Homo sapiens: one gene and its partner. The protein of the gene in region 1 binds, or shares a complex with, the protein of each later gene. Each region holds a gene or a part of one and is shown on either strand. Other genes may lie near its edges. The genes, in order: GPR3 and GNAS. A codon is read from its position in the direction of its gene.

Region 1 (12,728 bases):
AGAGGGGGAACAGCACACACCAGGGCCTGCTGGGGGGTGGGGGGCTTGGGGAGGGATAGCTTTAGGAGAAATACCTAATGTAAATGATGAGTTGATGGGTGCAGCAAACCAACATGGCGCATGTATACCTATGTATCAAACCTGCACGTTGTGTACATGTACCCTAGAACTTAAAGTCTAATAAAAAAATAAAATAAAAATAATAAAAAATAAAATTAATTAATTAATTTTAAAAAGTCCTTCAGGTTCTGTCCCCTTGTATTCCCTCTGTACGCCTCACTGCATCTCAGCAGCTTCCAGGCCCCTCCTATGCTGGCCCTCACAAATCATATATTTGACCATATCTCTTCCAGTTAGCAACTTTTTTTTTGAGCCTGAGTCTCACTCTGCTGCCCAGGCTGGAGTGCAGTGGCACAGTCTCAGCTCACTGAAACCTCCACCTCCCAGGTTCAAGGGATTCTTGTGCCTCAGCCTCCCAAGTAGCTGAGATTCTGAGATTACAGGCACCCGCCACCATGCCCGGCTAATTTTTTGTATTTTTAGTAGAGACAGGGTTTCACCATGTTAGCCAGGATGGTCTTGATCTCCTGACCTTGTGATCCGCCCGCCTCAGCCTTCCAAAGTGCTGGGATTACAGGCATGAGCCACCGTGCCCGGCCAATTTTCTGTATTTTTAAAGTTGAGACAGGGTTTCACCATGTTGGTCAGGCTGGTCTCGAACTTTTCTTTTTTGAGAGGGAGTTTCGCTCTTGTTGCCCAGGCTGAAATGCAATGGTGCAATCTCAGCTCACCGCAACCTCTGCCTCCCGTGTTGAAGCAATTCTCCTGCCTCAGCCTCCCAACTAGCTGGGATTACAGGCATGTGCCACCACGCCCAGCTAGTTTTGTATTTTCAGTAGAGACAGGGTTTCACCATGTTGGTCAGGCTGGTCTCGAACTCCTGACCTCAGGTGATCTGCCTGCCTCGGCCTCCCAAAGTGCTGGGATTACAGGCGTGAGCCACCGTGCCCGGCCAGTTTCGAACTTTTGACCTCAAATGATTCACCCACCTTGACCTCCCAAAGTGCTGGGATTACAGGTGTGAGCCACCATGCCTGGCCCCACCTAACAACTTTTCAACAATGGCTTGACCTCCACAACCCTTTGATTTCTGGCTCTAGAAGTCTCTCTATCCTGGCCTGGGTGCTTCCCATCACCTTCCTACCCTCTAAGAAGATAGAACAGAGCCTTCCCCCTATACCTCTCTTCCTCTATCCTAGCTGTTCTCTCTCCTAGAGGGTCCTCCTCAACCTTGGACTTCATTTGCCTGGCAAACTAATTCTTCAAGACACCACTACAAGACCACCTCCTGCAGGAAGCCTTCTGTGACTGTCACAGAATGAGGCTGAGCTGCTGCAGCACTTAGCTAGAGATCTAAATCCATCTGCTTTTTCCACTTCAGAGCCCTCCCCATCTCTTGCCTGAATGACTGCAGTGGCCTTCTAGTGGGGCTCCTGCTCCCCATTCCAGTCTGTTCTGCACTCAGCAGTCAGAGTGACCCTTTGATAACGTGTCAGTTCAGATCATAACACTTCCCTCCCACCAATGGCGTCTGTCTCACTGATCTGGGATTTCAGGCGCCCGCTGCCACACCTGGCTAATTTTTTGTATTTTTAATAGAGACGGGGTTTCATCATATTGACCAGGCTGGTCTCGAACTCCTGACCTCAGGTGATCCACCCGTCTTGGCCTCCCAAAGTGCAGGAATTACAGGCATGAGCCGCTGTGCCCAGCCAGATGTTTATTAAGTAACCTTACTGTACCATGTTGTGACAATCTGTGTACATGTTTGTCTGTCCCACCGGTCTGTAAGCCCCCAAGAGCTCCCTTCTGTCTCACATGATCTTGCCTCTGCCCACCTCGCCTCTCCTCCCTCTCCCCTTTGCTGATTTAGCTGCAGACACACTAGCCTCCTCTCTCTGGTCCTCACACCCATCAATGCTTTCTCTTCTTGGGGACTTTACACTTGTCGTGTCCTCTCCTTAAGACTCCTGTTCTCTCTTCACGTGACTTGTTCCATGACCTCCCTCCCTAAAAGAGGCCACCTGGTGATCCTACATCCCAACAGCTGCTCTTTTCTTCAGAGCAGGTAGCTAATGTATAATTAATTACTCATTTGTTTCCTAGGCTGTAAGCTTCATGAAGGCAGGAACCATGTTGATCTTCCCTCCTTAGTGAACTCCTTGCACACAGTAAGGGCTGAATAGATGTTGGGGTTTTTGTTTGTTTGTTTGTTGAGACGGAGTTTCGCTCTTGCTGCCCAGACTGGAGTGCAGTGGTGATCTCGGCTCACTGCAACCTCCGCCTCCCAGATTCAAGTGATTCTCCTGCCTCAGCCTCCTGAGTAGCTGGGATTACAGGTGCCTGCCACTATGCCTGGCTAATTTTTTGCATTTGTGGTAGAGACAGGATTTCATCACGTTGGCCAGGCTGGTCTCGAACGCCTGACCTCAGGTGATCCACCCACCTCGGCCTCCCAAAGTGCAGGAATTATGGGCGTGAGCCACCATGCCCAGCCAGATGTTTATTAAGTAACCTTACTTACTATGCCATGTTGTGACCATCTGTGTACATGTTTGTCCCACTGGTCTGTGAGGCCCCCAAGAGCTCCCTACTTGAATAGATTTTAAGGATCTATTTGTAGATTGTCCATCCCTCCAGATTAAAACTGAAGCTTGGCCTGGCACAGTGGCTCATGCCTGTAATCCCAGCACTTTGGGAGGCCGAGGTGGGCAGGTCACCTAAGGCCAGGAGTTCGAGACCAGCCTGGCCAACATGGTGAAACCCTGTCTTTACTAAAAAATACAAAAATTAGCCAGGCGTGGTGGCATGCATCTGTAGTCCCAGCTACTCGGGAGGCTGAGGCAGGAGAATCGCTTGAACCCGGGAGGCGGAGGTTGCAGTGAGCTGAGATTGCACCACTGCACTCCAGCCTGGGCAACAGAGCAAGACTATGTCTCAAAATAACTAACTAAATAAATTAATTAATAAAACTGAAGCTCATTGAAGATGGCAGGGATTTTTGTTCACTGCTGTATTCTCTGTACCCGGGAAATAGAAGATGCTCAATAAATGTGTCTATTGACTGTTGAAAAGGCAGGAATTTGGCCAGATCATCTTTCTGTCCCTAGCACCCACTGAACAAACCCTAAGCCCAGGGGAACTGCCAGTAAATAATGGCTGAATGAATGGGTCTATGCTAAGAATATGGGCACTGATGATGCCTAGACCCTTGGGTCTTAGACAAGGGACTCAGGTGTGGGGATTATCTATGACTGACACACACACACACACACAAGCACACACGCACGAACACCCCCTCCCCGCCAATTCCTCCCTCCCCAAGGGATTTCTCCAACTGGTGAAGACAGAAGAGGCAAGGATAAAAGTCTCACCTGGAAGTGAGTCCTCACAGCCATCTGGTGGCCACCTGGAGAACTGCAGGTATTGTCAGCCCTAGTCAAACTTTAGCCTCAGCCCCTTCTGGGAAGAAGGTGACATCTAGGCCAGAATGGAAGGCACACTGGACTTGGTGACAGATGGACCTGGCTTCAGATCCCAGCTCTGCCATTTACTATGTGATTTGGGGCAAGTCCCTTGGCTTTCCTGGGCTTCACCCAAGAAATGGAGACATGGTCCCTCACTTTTGCAGGTTGTTGTAAGCCTTGGGCTCTGGCTGGGCACCTGGTAGGTGGGAAGGGTTGGAGGAGGTGTCAAGGAGGTAGGGACAGAGGGCATGAGGAGAATAGGAGAGAAGGAACTATCTCTTCCTTTAGAGAGCAAGTATGCGGGGAATGGAGACCTGATTGGTATGAGCACTTTTGGTGCGTGAGGGAGAGCACATGAGGTTCACGTGAAAACCCATAGCCCCCCTTTAGTCTCTTGGCTCTCCTGGGTTTCTCGGGGTTAGAAATGTCACTGCATGCCGGGTGCGGTGGTTCATACCTGTAATCCCAGCACTTTGGGAGGCTGAGCAGGGTGGATCACCTGAGGTCAGGAGTTCAAGACCATCCTGACCAATATGGTAAAACCCTGTCTCTACTAAAAATACAAAAAAAAAAAAAAAAAAAAAAGCTGGGCATGGTGGCGGGCACCTGTAATCCCAGCTACTTGGGAGGCTGAGGCAGGAGAATCGCTTGAACCCAGGAGGCAGAGGTTTCAGTGAGCCGAGATTGCACCACTGCACTCCAGCCTGGGCAACAAGAATAAAACTGTCTCGGAAAAAAAAAAAAAAGGAAAGAAAAGAAATGTCACTGCACTCTCTTTTCCTCTCTGGCTGCCTTAGGATCAACTTCCCTTGCAAACAACAGGATAACTATCAGGATCAGGAAGTTCATGACCAATACTTCAGTGGAAATGATGGTCTTCCGTGTCCTTCACCCTGGGAAGACAACAATACCTAAGACAGAAAACTAGTCAAAAAGTAGAAGACCACTCTGGATTTCATCTTTGTATTTAGAACCCATTTTGGGCTGGGCACAGTGGCTCATGCCTGTAATCCCAGCACTTTGGGAGGCCAAGGTGGGCAGATCACTTGAACCTACGAGTTCAAGACCAGCCTGGGCAATGTGGCGAAACCCTGTCTCTACAAAAATTACACGCCTTAGCCAGGCGTGGTGACACGTGCTTGTAATCCCAGTTACTGTGGAGGCTGAGATGGGAGGATTGCTTGAGTCCAAGAGGTTGAGGCTACAGTGAGCATTGATTGCACCACTACACTCCAGCCTGGGTGACAGACTGAGATCCTGTCTCAAAAAACAAACAAACGAAAAAAAAAGACAGAACCCATTTTGGTGGTGTTAAGACAACTGGCTTGGTTATGATTTATGATTCCTTGGATTATGCAAAGAAAAATTAATCCAAACACAGACTTGCAAGACATAAAAGAAAAAGACCTCAAGAAAACAGCTAAAGGAACTCAAGAACAGAATGACGACAGCCAGGGAGTCACAAGAGTGTGGTGCTGGTGCTGGCAAACAGGAATGGCTTTATCTGCAGCAATGGTGAAGATTTTTCACCAGAGGATCAATAAGCTACGAAAACTTAAAAAATATATAATTGCCATTCAGAGTAGTAGAAGATAGTCCCTGATACCCCCCTTTGATGCCAACCTCCCAGCAGCCTTCACCCATCGCAGAGACCAGAACTCTGTAGGGACCCAGCTCTGATGGGGGAGTAAATGGATCCCTGACCCTGAGTCTTGGGGCCCTGATGCCCTTGGATCCTCTCTCTGACACCCCCACCTTCCTGGGCACCAGGCATATTACTATTCTCTCTGTTTTCCTTTTTTCCTCTGGTTGTTCCCTTTTAGGTCAATCATCCAGTCCATGATTATTTCTTCAATACCCATTACATATCAGGCACTGTTCTCTAGCAGAAATGGGACATAGTCAGTATCCTCTTGGAGCTTAGATTCTAGTGGGGCTGACATGTAGTAAAACAAACAAACATGAATTCATTTATAATTTCAAGAGTGCTTCATCCTCCAAAAATGAATAAATCAAGAGAAGGGGAGGGAGAGTGATGGGGAGGCCAGTGGCGATCTGAGAGTTCAGAGCAGCCTGTTTCAGAAGTAATTCGGGAGCAGAGACCTGGATGAAGAGAAGGGTTGTTGTCAGAGGGGTCAGGTGCAAGAGCCCAGGAGGAGGAGCCCCTGAAGCCACTCCTCACTCTCTGCTCCCGCCCCTGGGTGACATTATTTACCCCTAAAACATCAGTTGCCACCTGCATGCCTACACCTCCCAGGTGTCCCTCATTATCCAGCTGTAACATTGATGGCCAATGGCAAGTAGAACCCACTCAACAACCCCATGAGGCCGGTACTAATATTATCCCTGTGTTTTAGATGAGGAAATAGGCACAGAGAGCTGAAGAAACTCTCCAAAGTCACCCAGCTAGGAAATGGAGAAACTGAGATTGGACACTTCCACCCCCTAAGCCCCCTAAACTCACCACATCCAACCTGAAATGAATCCTCTTCTCCAGCTCCGACCCCCTCCTCCTCCCATGTTCCCTGCCACTTGACCTTCTGCTGCCTCACACTCAAACCCAAAACCTGCCTGGTGGAGGCTGACCATGGGGGCTGCAGTGATGGTGCTGTGATGGGGGTGTCCAGTGGGGCCTGGGATCCTCAGGCCTCTTAACCTCATCTTCCCCTCCCACAGGCCTGCATGATTCCAGGGAGCATCAAGGCAAGAGACACAGGGAGAAGGAGCAGCCAGTCCCCCTGCCGCAGGACTGGCCACATCTGTCACATCTGGAGAAGTCTGCCCAGAGTGGTTCCCCTGGACTAAGGGCAGATGGCGTTGGGGAAGAGGGAGCTCTTTCTCCTTGCTCCACCCATCAGGATGCCTAAAATAGGAGGCTGAGAGGGGCCTGCCCTGAGGACTGAGCTGCCAGGCTTTCTGCTTCCAAGTTCTTCCCGGCTCCCCATCTCCTCCTGCTTCAGGGAAGTGCACCCCTCACCCCCTCCACGCTGGCTTTCTAGATACTGGAATAAATAATTCAGGTTTTGAAATCTTGCCAGGCCCACCCCTCCGGTGCTGTGAGGGCGCTATTGGGCTGACATGAGTGACGTCACCCAGCTCTTATCCCAGCCCCGGCATCACGGGACTTGCCCTGGCAGCAACTTACCTGCCTGGTCACTGTCAGTCCAGACCCTCTACCCTGTGCCCCTCACCCTGGAGCCCACTCACCACAGCCACCTGCTATCTTCGTTCCAGGGCCCCACAGTCCTCATGGCTTAGCATTGTCGCTTCAGTACCCCAGCCATTCTGACAGGGTAATGGTGACCTGAAGTCACCTGGACACTCCATGTTCCCAGGCCGCTGCCTCTGCCATCCCGGGGTCCCTGAACTCCCCCCTGCTGCATAGTCACCCTGACACTGCCATGGTTGCCCTGAGGGCTTCCCCTCTACCGTTAGCGTCCCACGGCCATCACCCCCCACCCCAAGATTCTGTCACCATGCTAATGTCGTCACTGCCACCCACCTCCCCGCTCCCTCGTGCTCCCTGTCATCGTCACCTCAGGGCCCCATCATCTTGGAAACCCTGTCATTCTCACCAGGGAAGCCCAACCAGCCCCATCACAAGCTCTTCCTTCGTCACCTGGATCTCGTCAGCCTCTCTGCCACCCAAGGGTCCCATCACCCCACAGCCTAGCCGGGCCCCCTTTCCACTCTTCCACCACGTTCCCTGCAGCCTCTCTGAGACTTCAAGGCTCTCGCACCGGCGCCTCTGAAACCCCCGGCCCGCAGAGGGCGCCGCGTCAAGGACAGCGCGGGCGGACTCGGGAGGGGGCGGGGCCGCAGCCACGGTCGCTTTTTATGAATGGGGGAGCGGGCGGTGCGAGGCCTTATTACTATGCCGCGCAACGCGCGCTGCGCCCCAGCGCGCCGCGCCCATTGGCTGATCGGACCGCTGACGTCACCGAACCGGTGGCCGGGGGCGGGGCGGGGTGACTCACGCCGCTTCTCCCGCGGCCGCGGGGGCTTCTCGGGGTCCACGCACGCCCTGCGCCGCCAGGACCCGAGCGGAGCCTCCCCGCGGCCCGGCCGCGCCTGGTCCTGAGCGGTGAGTAGCGGGCCCCGCCGCGGGCACCAGGGGTCCTGAAGGGCACGCAGGATGCTGGGGCACTGGGCCGGCGGAAGGCTCCTAGTGGCCGGCCGGGGTTCGAGTTCGAGGTGGGAATTCTGGGTTTAGGCGATTCTGGGTTAGCAGGCTTGGGCCCAAGTGCTCGAGTGCTGGGGTTGAGTTGGATGACCCGGCGAAGGGTAAGCATTCCTGCAGGGACCCGAGGCCCTGGAGGGACTGATGGTCATCTGAGGTTAAGCCGGCAGGAGGCGTCTGGGGCAGGGACCCAGGGGTCCGAACAGCAGGAGGTGTCCAATTTAGGAATCCAGGTATCCAGGCAGGAGGCAGAGTCAGGCCCAAAATCCAGGTGTCCGGGCAGAAGGAGGCATCTGACTCAGGGATCCAGTCTTCCAGCAGGGGGGTCTGCCCAGAGACCTAGAGATTCAGGCGGAAAGAAGGGTCCAGCCAGGAACAGAAGTCTGGGAGGGTGGGGGGTGGGGGGCTGAGTTCCCAGGTGTTACCGCGGGAGTGCGGGGTGATGGCTGGCGGGAGCTTCACGCGCATTCCCTGGGGGCGGAGTCTAAGGCTGGCAGTACTGAAAATCGTGAGGGGTCTGGGAGCCTCAGGCACGAGCTAGCATCATCATCTCTGATGGGAGGGAGCGGAGCTGCTCAGTCTCCCTGATGGGGTAGATGTTTCCCTACCCCAATCTTGAGCCTTCGGGGGCATCCCCTGGATCCTATGGCCCTCTTCCACTTATAGTACCCCTTCTTCTGTCTCTCCTCTGGTCACACACGTGGGAAAAAGAGACCTGCAGGACCTAGGACAGGGATCCCCAGGAAGAGACCCCTGTTTAGAGGCCTGGGGGCATTGGAGGGGACAGCGGTATCCTGGGAAGAGCCCCAGGGCATGAATGTGGGGATAAGGCATTGGGACCCTATCAGGTATCCTGAGGAGAGACTCCCACCACGTATCCTGAGAAGCACCTCACCCCCTCCAGACCCCAACTCCCATCACCCAGCTTGGTCAGCTTCTCACAAGGCCTTTCTCCTGCAGGTACCATGATGTGGGGTGCAGGCAGCCCTCTGGCCTGGCTCTCAGCTGGCTCAGGCAACGTGAATGTAAGCAGCGTGGGCCCAGCAGAGGGGCCCACAGGTCCAGCCGCACCACTGCCCTCGCCTAAGGCCTGGGATGTGGTGCTCTGCATCTCAGGCACCCTGGTGTCCTGCGAGAATGCGCTAGTGGTGGCCATCATCGTGGGCACTCCTGCCTTCCGTGCCCCCATGTTCCTGCTGGTGGGCAGCCTGGCCGTGGCAGACCTGCTGGCAGGCCTGGGCCTGGTCCTGCACTTTGCTGCTGTCTTCTGCATCGGCTCAGCGGAGATGAGCCTGGTGCTGGTTGGCGTGCTGGCAATGGCCTTTACCGCCAGCATCGGCAGTCTACTGGCCATCACTGTCGACCGCTACCTTTCTCTGTACAATGCCCTCACCTACTATTCAGAGACAACAGTGACACGGACCTATGTGATGCTGGCCTTAGTGTGGGGAGGTGCCCTGGGCCTGGGGCTGCTGCCTGTGCTGGCCTGGAACTGCCTGGATGGCCTGACCACATGTGGCGTGGTTTATCCACTCTCCAAGAACCATCTGGTAGTTCTGGCCATTGCCTTCTTCATGGTGTTTGGCATCATGCTGCAGCTCTACGCCCAAATCTGCCGCATCGTCTGCCGCCATGCCCAGCAGATTGCCCTTCAGCGGCACCTGCTGCCTGCCTCCCACTATGTGGCCACCCGCAAGGGCATTGCCACACTGGCCGTGGTGCTTGGAGCCTTTGCCGCCTGCTGGTTGCCCTTCACTGTCTACTGCCTGCTGGGTGATGCCCACTCTCCACCTCTCTACACCTATCTTACCTTGCTCCCTGCCACCTACAACTCCATGATCAACCCTATCATCTACGCCTTCCGCAACCAGGATGTGCAGAAAGTGCTGTGGGCTGTCTGCTGCTGCTGTTCCTCTTCCAAGATCCCCTTCCGATCCCGCTCCCCCAGTGATGTCTAGCTGAGTCTTCATGACCCTTCAACCCTGATTACTACAGAATTCCAGAATGTTAGGCTCTCCAGGGCTTCTTTCCAAACCCCCAGCTCCACACCCCCCAGACCCAGCTGGTTCTGGAGTTCTAGGACATTGGGTGTTTCAAGGTTCTGTTCAGATCCCTATGGGGGCCCAGCTGGCTCCACGGTTCCAGAATGTTCAGGTGGTCAGTGTTCTACTCAGAAATGTCTCACAGCCCAGCTGGGTTGCAATTCCAGAATGCTGGGAGTTTTACAGTGCCATTCCAAGTCCCAGATGTCCCTCTTCCCCCAAACTTGACCTTGACCATGTCACTTTATGTTTGAATTTCTGAGCTAAAGAGTCAGAGAGATTAGTCACATAGTTGCCTAAATAGGAGAGAGAAAGATTATATATGCACATATACAAAGACAGTGTCTATTTATGATTGATTTATTTATTTATAAATTTACTTATGGGTGGTAAGGGGCAAAAAAGAGGCCCACACCTTGATATCCAGGCCATACCAGGGTATCCCTTGTCCCTTCACCCCCATTTCTGACCTCAGTTCCTGGAGGGGGGAAAGGGTGAAAGAGAAACCACGTATTTTGTTATTATTTTGGATTATTTTTTATCGAAGAGATCATAGAAACCAGAGCCTTCTCCCCAGGCCTGCCCTCCTCGGGTTTGGAAGGGGAACACACCAGCCTCTGGTTTTTTATTTTTTTAAGAAGCCATCACCTGAGCAACCAAAAATTCCTCTGCGCTGGGGTCCGACTGCCCTCTGGTGGCCATTTGGGGAAAACTGCAGCCCGGCCAGGCAGCTGGGACCAGAATGCAACCCCAGCTCCACTCCAGCCTGGCGTCCAGGGCCACAGCCATGGCCTGGGGGCCAAGCCTCACCCTGCGGTGCCCTAAAGGAGGGGGGGCACGAGCCAACACCCCACCCCTCTGCCAACCGGGGTATGGCCCCCAGTGCATTCCCTGTTCCCGTCTCCAACCCAACTCAATAAAAAATGATTTTGTCATAAATATGTTTCCCTATGTGTGTGTGGAGGGTATGGAGTGGGGCCTGATGGGGGATGGCCTGGAATGAGAGGGTCAAGCCAGGCCTGGGGGGCCTGTTGGGGGATCTGGGGAGCTGGACAGAGGGTGGAGGGTGGCTGGCAGGTGACTCCTTCTCAGATGTCAGTGCCCCTCTGCTCAGACCTGGGCACTGACTGGCAAGGACCTTACCTCCTCCTGGTGACAGGAACCTGGGTGCTTGGCTCTTCCTGGGTCAAGGATGCTCACATCCTGCCCACACCGGCCACTGTGGGGCTTAGACATGATGAATATGCTCAAAGCATGTCAGTTTCCTTAATAATAATAGGTCCTACTTTTTTTTTTTTTTTTTTTTTTTTTGAGACAGAGTCTCGCTCTGTCCCCCAGGCTGGAGTGCAGTGGCGTGATCTCGGCTCACTGCAAGCTCCACCTCCCGGGTTCACGCCATTCTCCTGCCTCAGCCTCCCGAGTAGCTGGGACTACAGGCGCCCACCATCACGCCCGGCTAATTTTTTTTGTATTTTTAGTAGAGACGGGGTTTCACTGTGTAAGCCAGGATGGTCTCGATCTCCTGACCTCGTGATCCACCCGTCTCAGCCTCCCAAAGTGCTGGGATTACAGGCGTGAGCCAACGCGTCTGGCCAATAATAGGTCCTTCTAATCATGGGTGCCTACTGTGTGTCTGGCACACATGCTACCTCGCTTATGCCTAATAAGCATCCCATGGCACCGGTAGTGTCTTCTCCATTTTACAAACGAGGGAGCTGAGGCTGAGTGAGGGACAGCAGCTGGCCCAAGGCCATACAGCTAAAAAATGGTAGAGCCAGGAACATCTGTTTCCAGAATCTGTGCTGTGTAGTGAGTGATTTCCTTCCTTCCCAAGCCTGGAGCTTAGGACATTCTGGACCCTGATTTTTTTTTTTTTTTTTTTTTGAGACAGAGTCTTGCTCTGTTGCCCAGACTGGAGTGCAATAGCGTGGTCTCGGCTCACTGCAACCTCCGCCTCCTGGGTTCAAGCGATTCTCCTGCCTCAGCTTCCCAAGTAGCTGGGATTACAGGCACCTGCCACCACGCCTGGCTAATTTTTGTATTTTTAGTAGAGACTGGGGTTTCACCATGCTGGCCAGGCTGGTCTCGAACTCCCGACCTCAGGTGATCCGTCCGCCTCAGCCTCCCAAAGTGCTGGGATTACAGGCGTGAGCCACCGCACCCAGCTGGACCCTGATTTATTTTGGGGTTCATTTTTAGGGCCACATTTGGGAAGTGGTCGGAGGGGGTCTGGTCATTTTGGAGTCAGAAGAGCTTTTCTACGCAAAGGTGAGTGACTATCAGTGTGTGCCTTTGGGGACATATGTGTGCAGGACCCAGAGTTTGGGTACTTGAGGAGAGGAAGCTGACCCCAGAAAGAATGTGTCTATCAGGCCAGGGCAGCAGCAGGTTTGGGGTGTGGCTGAAGAGGAAGCTTTGATTGGCCAAGCCTCCCAGCTTCCCAAGCCTTATTTTTGGGCAAAGCTTGGAGGTGGGGCTCTTGGAGCATTTCTGGCTCACCCCTCCACATACAGACAGGAGCCCGAGGCCCAAAGAGGAGCAACCATTTGCTCAAACTCGCACAGCTGTGCCAGGCTAGGACACAGGCCTTTCTCCATTTCCCTGGCAGAGTTAGAGCCCTTTTGTCTGGTGTAAAGATCCCTCCCTTGGCCAGGTGTGGTGGCTTACGCCCGTAATCCCAGCACTTTGGGAGGCCGAGGCGGGCAGATCACCTGAGTCAGGAGTTCGAGACCAGCCTGGTCAACATGATGAAACCCTGTCTCTACTAAAAATACAAAAAATTAGCCGGATGTGGAGCCTATAATCCCAGCTACTTGGGAGGCTGAGTCAGGAGAATCGCTTGAGCCCGGGAGGCAGAGGTTGCAGTGAGCTGTGAGCCAAGATCGCGCCATTGCACTCCAGCCTGGGCAACAGAGTGAGATTCCGTCCCCACCCCCCAACCAAAAAAATCCCTCCCAGTAGTCTGAGGAGAGTCGTCAT
Region 2 (8,573 bases), on another chromosome or scaffold:
GAGGCTGAGGCGGGCAGACTGCCTGAGGTCAGGAGTTGGAGACCAGTCTGGCCAACATGGTGAAACCCCGTCTCTACTAAAAACACACAAAAAAACTAGCTGGGCATGGTGGCATGCACCTGTAATCCCAGCTACTAGGGAGGCTGAGGCAGGAGAATTGCTTGAACCCGGGAGGCGGAGGTTGCAGTAAGCTGAGATGGCACCACTGCACTCCAGCCAGGGCGAGAGTGAGACTCTGTCAAAAAAAAAAAAAAAAAAAAAAAAAAAAGTCGTATGTGCGATGCTCCAGGCACTGCAGCTAGCAGCAATGAAACTTCTAGTTCATGATGTTAGTGCATGTTGGTCCATGTGCAATAGGAATCAAATAAGATTCCACCCCCTAGAAGGCCTTATAATCTAAGGGGGAGGGGAGGTCAGATCCCTCTGGTAAGTAGAGGTTGAAGGTTTTGTAGCTTTTCCTTGAGTTTAACTCAGCCACATGGGATGGCCTGCGTGGTCTTTATGGAATGATCTATATTCAGGGTCACTGGTCCCACAGGTAAAGGACACACCCTTTGGCTTCTGGGGACCATAACAGAATGTTAATTTTTGTACCACATTACACTGATCCAAATGCTGTATGTTTTTCAGAAACTAGCCTTCATTAGAAGCACAGCCAGGGAAGGTTCTCGAGTTTATGTTTTTAGAGGGCAAGAAAAGGCCTCTTGTGTGGAGTATGTATCTCATCAGGTCTATAGCCCAAAAATGGAACCAGCACACACAGCACACCTGCTGTACCTGTTAGGCCCTGGGAGGTGAGGGCGTTGTCATGCGGAAAAAAGGTGCTACGGTCCTGCCTCTCTGACAGGGAAACTGAGGCCAAGAGGGGGGGAGTCACCGAGGCAGAAACCAATGGGAGATGGAGGGGACAGAGTTTATCTTTTTCACGGTTTGTATATATATATTTTTTAATCTTTTGAGAGTCCCAGTTTTTGAAGCATTCACTTGGCTGATTCACCAATTCATAGACTGGAGTAGAAATTAAAACATATAATCTCTCCAGACTAGAACACGACAGTTAAGGCAGAGGAAAGGCGAAGGGAGGTTAATTAGCAAGAGCAGACGAGCAGACGAGCAGGGCAGGGCAGTCAGTGGAGCAGCAGGGGTGGGGGGCGGGGACGGACGGTGGGGTCAAGTGCGGGCCTGTCGACAGGCCTTCCACAAATCATTTGGTCTTTCCTTTCTCAAAGAATTATACTTACAAATTTATTCTTTCTGAATAAATGTCTGTGTACTTCTGGGCCTTCACCTGCTGAAGGATCCCATCTCGCCCCCTTCCTACGTGAAGCCCCTTTCACAGGTCACTGCACCACTGCTCTTCTACATTGGGTGAAGAGCTGGGGAAGTTCAGAGGGGCCACGCTCATTAGTGGTGGGGGGTGTCTGGGGTGGGGAGGGGGGACAGATGTTGCCAGGAATCCCCTCAGGGCCATTTAAGTAAAAGTGCTGCAGGTCCGGAGAATCTCAGAAACACAGATGACAGGGAGGTGAGCGAGCTTCAGGCCTTGTGTACAAATCTGAAATCTGATTCTGGCCCCCAGACTCTTAAAGCAACCACCTTAGAGTGAAAGGGAGTGAGTCCTGACCGCTCTGTGCGACTGTCTGCTTTGTATGTGCAGAATCAAAGCTCATTTCTGAAATTAAGAATCCCCGGCCTTGGTATTACAGTCTAACATCGATTATTTAGATGTTATAAATTAAAAGGACATGTGTTTGATGGTCCCCAATGTTCACTTTTGAATTCAGAATTTACCCAAAACCCCCTAGGGCAAATCTATTCCCATTCATTAAAAGCAGGCTCCACTTCACAGGTAATGAAAGCTATTAACCTTTGGTTTTGAGGTTCCACAATAGTAAAATTAAATACATTCGGGTACTAAATATCCAAATCTGCATACAGCAAGAGAAAGTATTTCCAGAAACAAGTTTCTTTCATTCAGTTTGATATTTTGGTCTAAGCAGTAGTATGATAATTGGAAAACTTCCCGTCTTAAAATACGGATATTTTGAGAACGTGTTCAGTATTCATCTACGTATGTGAATAGGTGTGGGAGTATATCAAGTATAAAACAGCTAAAATAGAAATCTAAAATCTAATTCGGGTGTGTAATACTAAAACATAAAATTCTTCCATTGAAGCAATTACTATGTAGATGGAGATATTATACTGGGGGTTGGCGGGTTTATCATCACTTTTACTATTGCTTAATGAATTTAACGTTGATTGTGAAATTCAGAGAAAATTCCTTAGATGTCTTTAAACTACTCAACAAAGGCAAAACATATGCCATTAGCTAGAATTCTGATTCGCTACAAAATTGGGACTAAGGCTGGAAGTACTTTTAGGGTCTTGGTTCCTCCTCCTCCCCCTTCTATGTATACAGCAGATGGGATGCGTTCAGTTTTTAAGAGCTCCTCCCCTCCCCCCGCTTCAGCTAACTAAGTGGTGGGGGAAGCTATTCAGGTCTCCACCTTAATCCTTGTGCTTTGGTGGGAAAAGACAGACAAAGGAAGGAAGACAGAAGACAGACGCGAGATACAGGGATTGCTGAAACATGCAGAGAATTTTTATTTATCACGAATGTTAATACTTATATTGACTTGCAGAACAGAGTGAGAGAGACGTGCAGGCCAAGGTATTAGTAGGGTTCAAGGGTTTAGCAGGACATCTAGTACACAGTAGGTTGCTCACTAAGGACTTGTCATATCTTGCTCAAATGCCAACTTTTGGTACAGCAGATTGTCAATTAGTCATTTCTTATAGAGATGCCTTTTTGGATAGTTGTCATACTACATTTCTGCCAATTAAGGATTTCAGTTCATTTTTCGTTTTTTCAATCATCGTTTAAGGTCAGGTAGCAGGGGCCCCATCCCCCCTCCCCCCTCAGATAACAGAATAGTATTCTTATTAGAAGTTCCTAAGACCGAGCAATTCCAGCATGCAAATTGTGATAGGACATAGCCGGGAAGATGAGAAACTGTAGCCATCATCTAGGGATATTATATTCTAAAAGAAACAGATGAACAAACATGTGTCAGTTACTTTGTCCCCAGACCCCAATATCTTTGCCCCTCCCCTCCCCGGCCACAGAAGCTGTTTCTTTGAGATGCCCTAAACTAAGTCAATGGTTCTGGATGGTCTCATGAGAAATAGCCACTCCACCACTGCATGCTAAATACACAGCAGAGCTAGAGTGGTTACCTGGCATGCGTGTGTGTGTGCGCGGCGCGTGTGGCTGTGTGTGCGTGTGATGTGTGTGCGTGTCTGTGTATGCATGTGCATGTGTGTGCGTGTGTGTGTGTGTGATGGGTGTGGGGATGCAGGAAGCAAAGAAAAAATAATTTGATAATGAATGGAAAAATAAAAGATGCCATCATGAATTTCCTTATCCACCAAGCTAACGTAAAGTGCCTTTGATTCAAATAAATTTGATCATTTTTAAAAGGCCAGAGGCTTTTCGAGATGATTCTTAACGACCTGCTGCAAGGTACCAAGGCGTTTTTCAAAATTAAAGACGGTGCAGCATTGCATATTTTAATAAAGGAAACAAATTTTGTTTCAAAGAGGTCTGAAATTTTAAAATCAGACCAACCAGTGGGTAGATGGAATTTAGTAGATAGTTTTAAAACAAGCAGCTGGTTCAAATGGAGAGCTGGGGGAAAACAGAAACCATATGGAAAAACATCAATTCTCAAAATCCTAAACTGATCATCCAAGGCTGAAATCTATAACTTTCCCCCAGCTGGATCTCATTCTACTTTAAGCATGGCCAAAAAAATTTATGTTACGCACTTTACTTGCTCCAAAATGTCAGGAAATTGTGTGTTATTCACAAATGTATGCCAATATGGCTGATGGTCCTTTAAATGATTTTTATTTTCTTCCCGGGTCTCTGGCCTCAGTTTCCCAGTATGATCTTCATGTTTGTTTGGTTTGTTAACAATTTTTTCTGGTTTTGAATGTGCCTACCCATCGCTGTTGCTCCTTGCAGCCTGCGGGTCCTCTTCGCCGCCCCTTTTAAAGAGAGATTGAAAGCTCACCTAATCTGCAAGGCACCGCAGTGTCACACAAACCCCACACAGTCTCTCTACATTCCTCAACCATCAGCCAAGAGCAAAAGCAACAATTCGCGCGCCAGCCATCCATCCTCCCGGCAATTCTTAGGTCGCCTTTCTGGCTAAATTGGAACATCCACTGAGACTGCAGGCCATGGGGGAAGAATCCCACACCTTTGCTGCAGTATTAACAGAGCTCTCTGGAGACTCTGGTCGGAGACAGGAGGGATGGATAATTGTTTTCTTGTGCTTTCACTAAACGTACACGCATTAGGGAGCTAAAGCAGTGATTTATCTCACAATTCTTTGGAGAATATGGCAGCGCATAAGGCTCCTAATTCTCCCAGGTCAGAATCTTCCCAAGGTTGTAACTTAAGGCATAAAGGCATAAACGGGGGAGATTTCTGCCCAGGATTTCCTGCAAAACTAATGACCTCACTTCTTGCAGTGGAAGGAAACTACCTATAAAATGGTTTTATTTATAAATAATTGTTCCCCATAAATTGTCATTAAACTATGTCTGGACTGTGATGTAGCAAAAAAAATTTCAAAGAACAAAAGCCCACCCACCACCACCACAGAAAAAACAAAAAGAACAAAAGCCCACCCACCACCACCACGGAAAAAAGAAAAAGAAAAAAAAAACCAAAAACCCAAACCCGATCTTCATAAACAGTAGGAATTCCTCCTTGAAGGCCGAAGGGCAGCATTCTACAGTTTGGTAATTGATTAGCTTAGTTCAACCAATGTTAATGGTGTTTATGTTTTGTTTTTGTTTTGTTCCTGGCACTAAATGTAAGAAACAGAGTTAGTTTTGAGTTAGAAAATCCGCATCCAACCTCTGTATTTCTGAAGGTCAAATCAGTATTATCTTACTCTTAAAAATGTAATCAGCATGGCAGCCCGCAGAGAGTTAAGGCAAATTTAATAGCTCAGCCGAGCCCTAACAAAACGCAAGATCAGGGAGGAAGAACCCTGTACCACCCAGACCACCCTTTAGGGACAGATGTCACTGTCTCATAGGGAATTCCTAGTTAAGAAGGAAATAGCTTTTGTTGCAATACCGCAGTGAGGAAAAAGAAAAAAGGAGGCAGTTGGATGAGATAAAAATAAGGTATCTAGGCTCCCATGAGGAATACCCCTGTAAACCCTCTCACAGGCTAAATTTAACGTATCTGTGCCCTTGTCTGCAAAGAAGGCAAACTGGGAATGTTGCTTCCTCTTTCCAAAAAGAAAACAGAAAAGAGAAGTTCTGGTTTAAAACCCTTGCCTGGTGTTACAGGCTGGCTCGCTTAGGGAGGAGAATCCTTTCTATAAAAATTTTTAAATTTTAGGGCAATCTGTAATGAAGCTGTCAGTAATTTATTTCAAAGGTGACTTAGCTTCCATCCGACTCAAGCTAAGGTAAACAGTGGCTGCTGCATCTTTGAAAAATGCTAGCCATGTCCAGTTTTCATCAAAATATTTATCTAGAGGATACATGGTCAAATTATTTTTGCTTAACTACTCTCATGAATAAGTAAGTACTCCTGCAAGTTGCAGGGGGAAAATTTATGCAAGATTTTTCTTCAAATGACAGATTCATGGTTGGAAGTCTGTCTCAGGGTTATTTATTTATTGTCAGGATGGCAGTCTCCGCTGGCAGGGCTTTATCGAGGGGTGTGTCAAGAATTAATTTCGGAATTGGTTGGTGACAAGTGATGCTGACTTACTCAATAGCACGTATGTGCATGTTGATAACCCATTGAGAGTCATAATCAGATGAGTGAAGAAGCCCCCTGTGCATCCCAACCAATCCTTCTGAATTCAGGGTTAAAGTAGAAAAAGCATCCTCAACTAACAGGACTATTCGTATGGGTGATGTCATCCTTCTCTAAACAATTATTTGATCTAACAAATTCTAGAATTCTCTATAAGGAGCTGCCTGCCTTGCTCTGAAAGGTGAAAAAGTTCACCTTTGTTTCCTGGATGCTTAGTGACTAGTAAAGGTTTTTTTGTTTGTTTTGTTTGTTTTTTTGGGGGGTGGTTGGTATAATTAAACGCTACCACCTTGACTCCAACTCCCCTTTTGAAATGGAAGCTGAAGCAACTCAAGGTTAAATTTTCAATCGAATCCAAGTTTAAGAAAGGGAACAGGACTGTGCCAACCAGCTAGTAATTACAAACTAGTGCCTTCAGGTGCTTGAAATCTAGTGCGGTTAATGCTCTCATACCAGTGAAAACAGACTGGTCAACTTAGTTTTTTTGTTTTGTTTTTTCTTTTTCTTTTTTTTTTTTTACACGTTTTGTTACACGAGAACGATGGGTAGGCCCCATCTGGGGTCTTGGGGAGAAAAGCAAGTTCCCCGATTTATTGAATGTTCCCTGTTTGCATTCCCCATGCCAGGCAGGGCTTCCTAACTCGTCTCACAGGTCTAATACAAAGTCTCTCCTGTTTAATCTTCATTCCCACTACGGATTGCCACATTGTGCTATACCAGGATACCTGGGAGGACTTCTCAAAGGCAAAAATGCCCCTCAGTGAGGCTGGGAGTGCCTAACTCCCAGTCTTTCCATCCTTTAAATAAATGTTCCCTCTTCTTTTCTGTAGGCAGGGGTACTGATTTGTTTTTTGTTTTAAAGGGAAACAATGATTTACCCATAATGGTAATTTAAAGGGGGACAAAAAAAATGAGAAACTGTAAACACGGGCTGCCACTTCCACATCTGTTTCTGGTGAGAATATTATGGAAACAATGTTTCCCTAATAGTTTAAAACATCCTGTGTTGGTTCATTACATTGAAATCTGCGTGAGGTGGGGTGGGGTGAATTTGCAGTGATCAGCGTGGGCCGGACGAGGGGGCGGCCAAAGCCACGTTGAAGACACTGCAGTGATGTCCGAAGACTGTGGCAGGGACCTGGCCCGGAGAGGGGCTGTCACGGGGCCAAGTGCTGTCAAGCGTCCCCTGCAACCAGGCACGATTTTCTTGGGATAGGGAGATGTTTGTCACAAACACTGGTGCTTTCATCAGTAGTATTTGTTGCACCAAAGATCCAAGGGGGTGGGGGGTGAGGGACCCTAAAGAGCCCTTCCCAGGATTTTCTAATATGTAAATCAGGAAAAATTAAGTGAAAACTGGCTGCCCAGCCCCCAAAGCCCACCTATACTTCCTAAAGGTTAGTATAAAGTCTGTTCCTCTTACTTGGTGCCCCCCTGCACAGATTTGACACTTACTCTCCATTAAACCCATTAACATGCAGGATCCTCATCTGCTTCACAATGGTGCTTTTACCAGATTCTCCAGCACCTAGAAAATGAAAGTAAGTCTCAGGTTATGAAGGAGGCATTTTAACACTTTGGGCAGGGAGGTCTGCTGTTGTTGTTTTGTTTTTCCATAGAAGCAACATGCAAAAAACCAAACACAAAATCACAGACTTGCAACTTTCCTTGACATTTCGACGCAGAGAAAAGGAAATCAATGTCCAATTCAGTGTCTACCTGCAGTATTTCACCATCCAAATAACAAACAAGAATTTAAGGTTTGCTGGTTTTAATTTTTCTTTTGATTGTTTAAAAAATTGTGGGGTGGTGTTGGAAAGGGGCAAAGAGAAGGAATGACGCAATTTTGTCATTTGTGGGGTAAACAAGAAAATTGAAGTTAAAACTGTGAAACTGAATCCCTGATACATGAACATTCACACATAAACATATCTAGACACATAATTTGTTGTCAGATGTTTCATGGTTAAAATACCCGGGATTCCCAACAATGCCCAGACACTGCAGTCTCTTCCACATCACGTAGCGATGCAGCACTTTCCTCCTCAACATTTTCACAACGCAGCTTCTTTCTGTGCAGGTTTCCTACCCCTTGGGCTACTTAAAAATCCACCCCTAAAACTGCATTACATTTTATCCACTTATCCATCCTCCTCTTTCCTCACAAACTATATCTTTCTAAAGATAAATTCCCTCTGGGTACAACTATGTTGCTGAGGAAAAGGGGAGACCATCAATTATCTGTCATCTTCTGGAAAAACCACACTTTAACATCAAATACAGTTCCTGAGACCCTATTAGCATTAGGTAAACTGCAAAAACAACAGTAAAAAGTAACATAAGAACAAAACTTTAATCAAAAGGAAAACTATCCCTGGGAAGTACTGAATTTGAAAGATTCCAAGCCCTTCCCAACTCAAAGAGTAGAAACACATGCCTCCATTTTAAATCATCTTTCATTTGTAAAAATACATATATGTTTCATGGAAAAAACACATTTCCATCAAGCTAGAGGGAGGATTGCTATTTTGCATCTTTTTTGCAATGCACATTCTCCAACAGATAATCCACGTGTGAAGTTTTTTTGCCCTCCTTCCACACAAATCTGTTATTACCTTTTTCTTTCTTTTTAACTTTTAATTGTATTGTTTTGTTTTAATGCCCAGATAGCACAGCATTCCTCCTTTACTTGCCTTTTCACAAGCCCGTAATCAATATC

The links.
Region 2: the proteins of GPR3 (region 1) and GNAS are in contact, whole or in part, in a cryo-EM structure (PDB 9LYB), measured with the Homo sapiens proteins. Residues at the interface, in NP_005272.1 of Homo sapiens: Met75 (codon at 8,895), Arg134 (codon at 9,072), Ser137 (codon at 9,081), Leu138 (codon at 9,084), Tyr139 (codon at 9,087), Ala141 (codon at 9,093), Leu142 (codon at 9,096), Tyr144 (codon at 9,102), Tyr145 (codon at 9,105), Glu147 (codon at 9,111), Ile216 (codon at 9,318), Ile219 (codon at 9,327), Val220 (codon at 9,330), Arg222 (codon at 9,336), His223 (codon at 9,339), Gln226 (codon at 9,348), Ile227 (codon at 9,351), Leu229 (codon at 9,357), Gln230 (codon at 9,360), Arg231 (codon at 9,363), His232 (codon at 9,366), Lys244 (codon at 9,402), Gly245 (codon at 9,405), Thr248 (codon at 9,414), Arg300 (codon at 9,570); in NP_000507.1 of Homo sapiens: Gln35, Arg38, Ala39, His41, Val217, Phe219, Asp323, Asp343, Leu346, Thr350, Tyr358, Cys359, Phe376, Cys379, Arg380, Asp381, Ile383, Gln384, Arg385, Met386, His387, Leu388, Gln390, Tyr391, Glu392, Leu393, Leu394.

The regions. Positions count from the first base shown.
Region 1 is NC_000001.11:27,385,127-27,397,854, forward strand, and holds GPR3 (G-protein coupled receptor 3), read left to right. Parts: upstream 1-7,495; 5' UTR 7,496-7,611; intron 7,612-8,667; 5' UTR 8,668-8,672; coding exon 8,673-9,665; 3' UTR 9,666-10,688; downstream 10,689-12,728. UniProt on the Homo sapiens protein: Constitutively active G-protein coupled receptor that maintains high 3'-5'-cyclic adenosine monophosphate (cAMP) levels that a plays a role in serveral processes including meiotic arrest in oocytes or neuronal development via activation of numerous intracellular signaling pathways.
Region 2 is NC_000020.11:58,894,421-58,902,993, reverse strand, and holds part of GNAS (protein GNAS), read right to left. Parts: intron 7,383-8,573; coding exon 7,310-7,382; intron 4,054-7,309; coding exon 4,009-4,053; intron 3,046-4,008; coding exon of another isoform or gene 3,039-3,045; exon of another isoform or gene 2,999-3,038; coding exon of another isoform or gene 2,964-2,998; exon of another isoform or gene 2,495-2,963; intron 1-2,494. UniProt on the Homo sapiens protein: Guanine nucleotide-binding proteins (G proteins) function as transducers in numerous signaling pathways controlled by G protein-coupled receptors (GPCRs).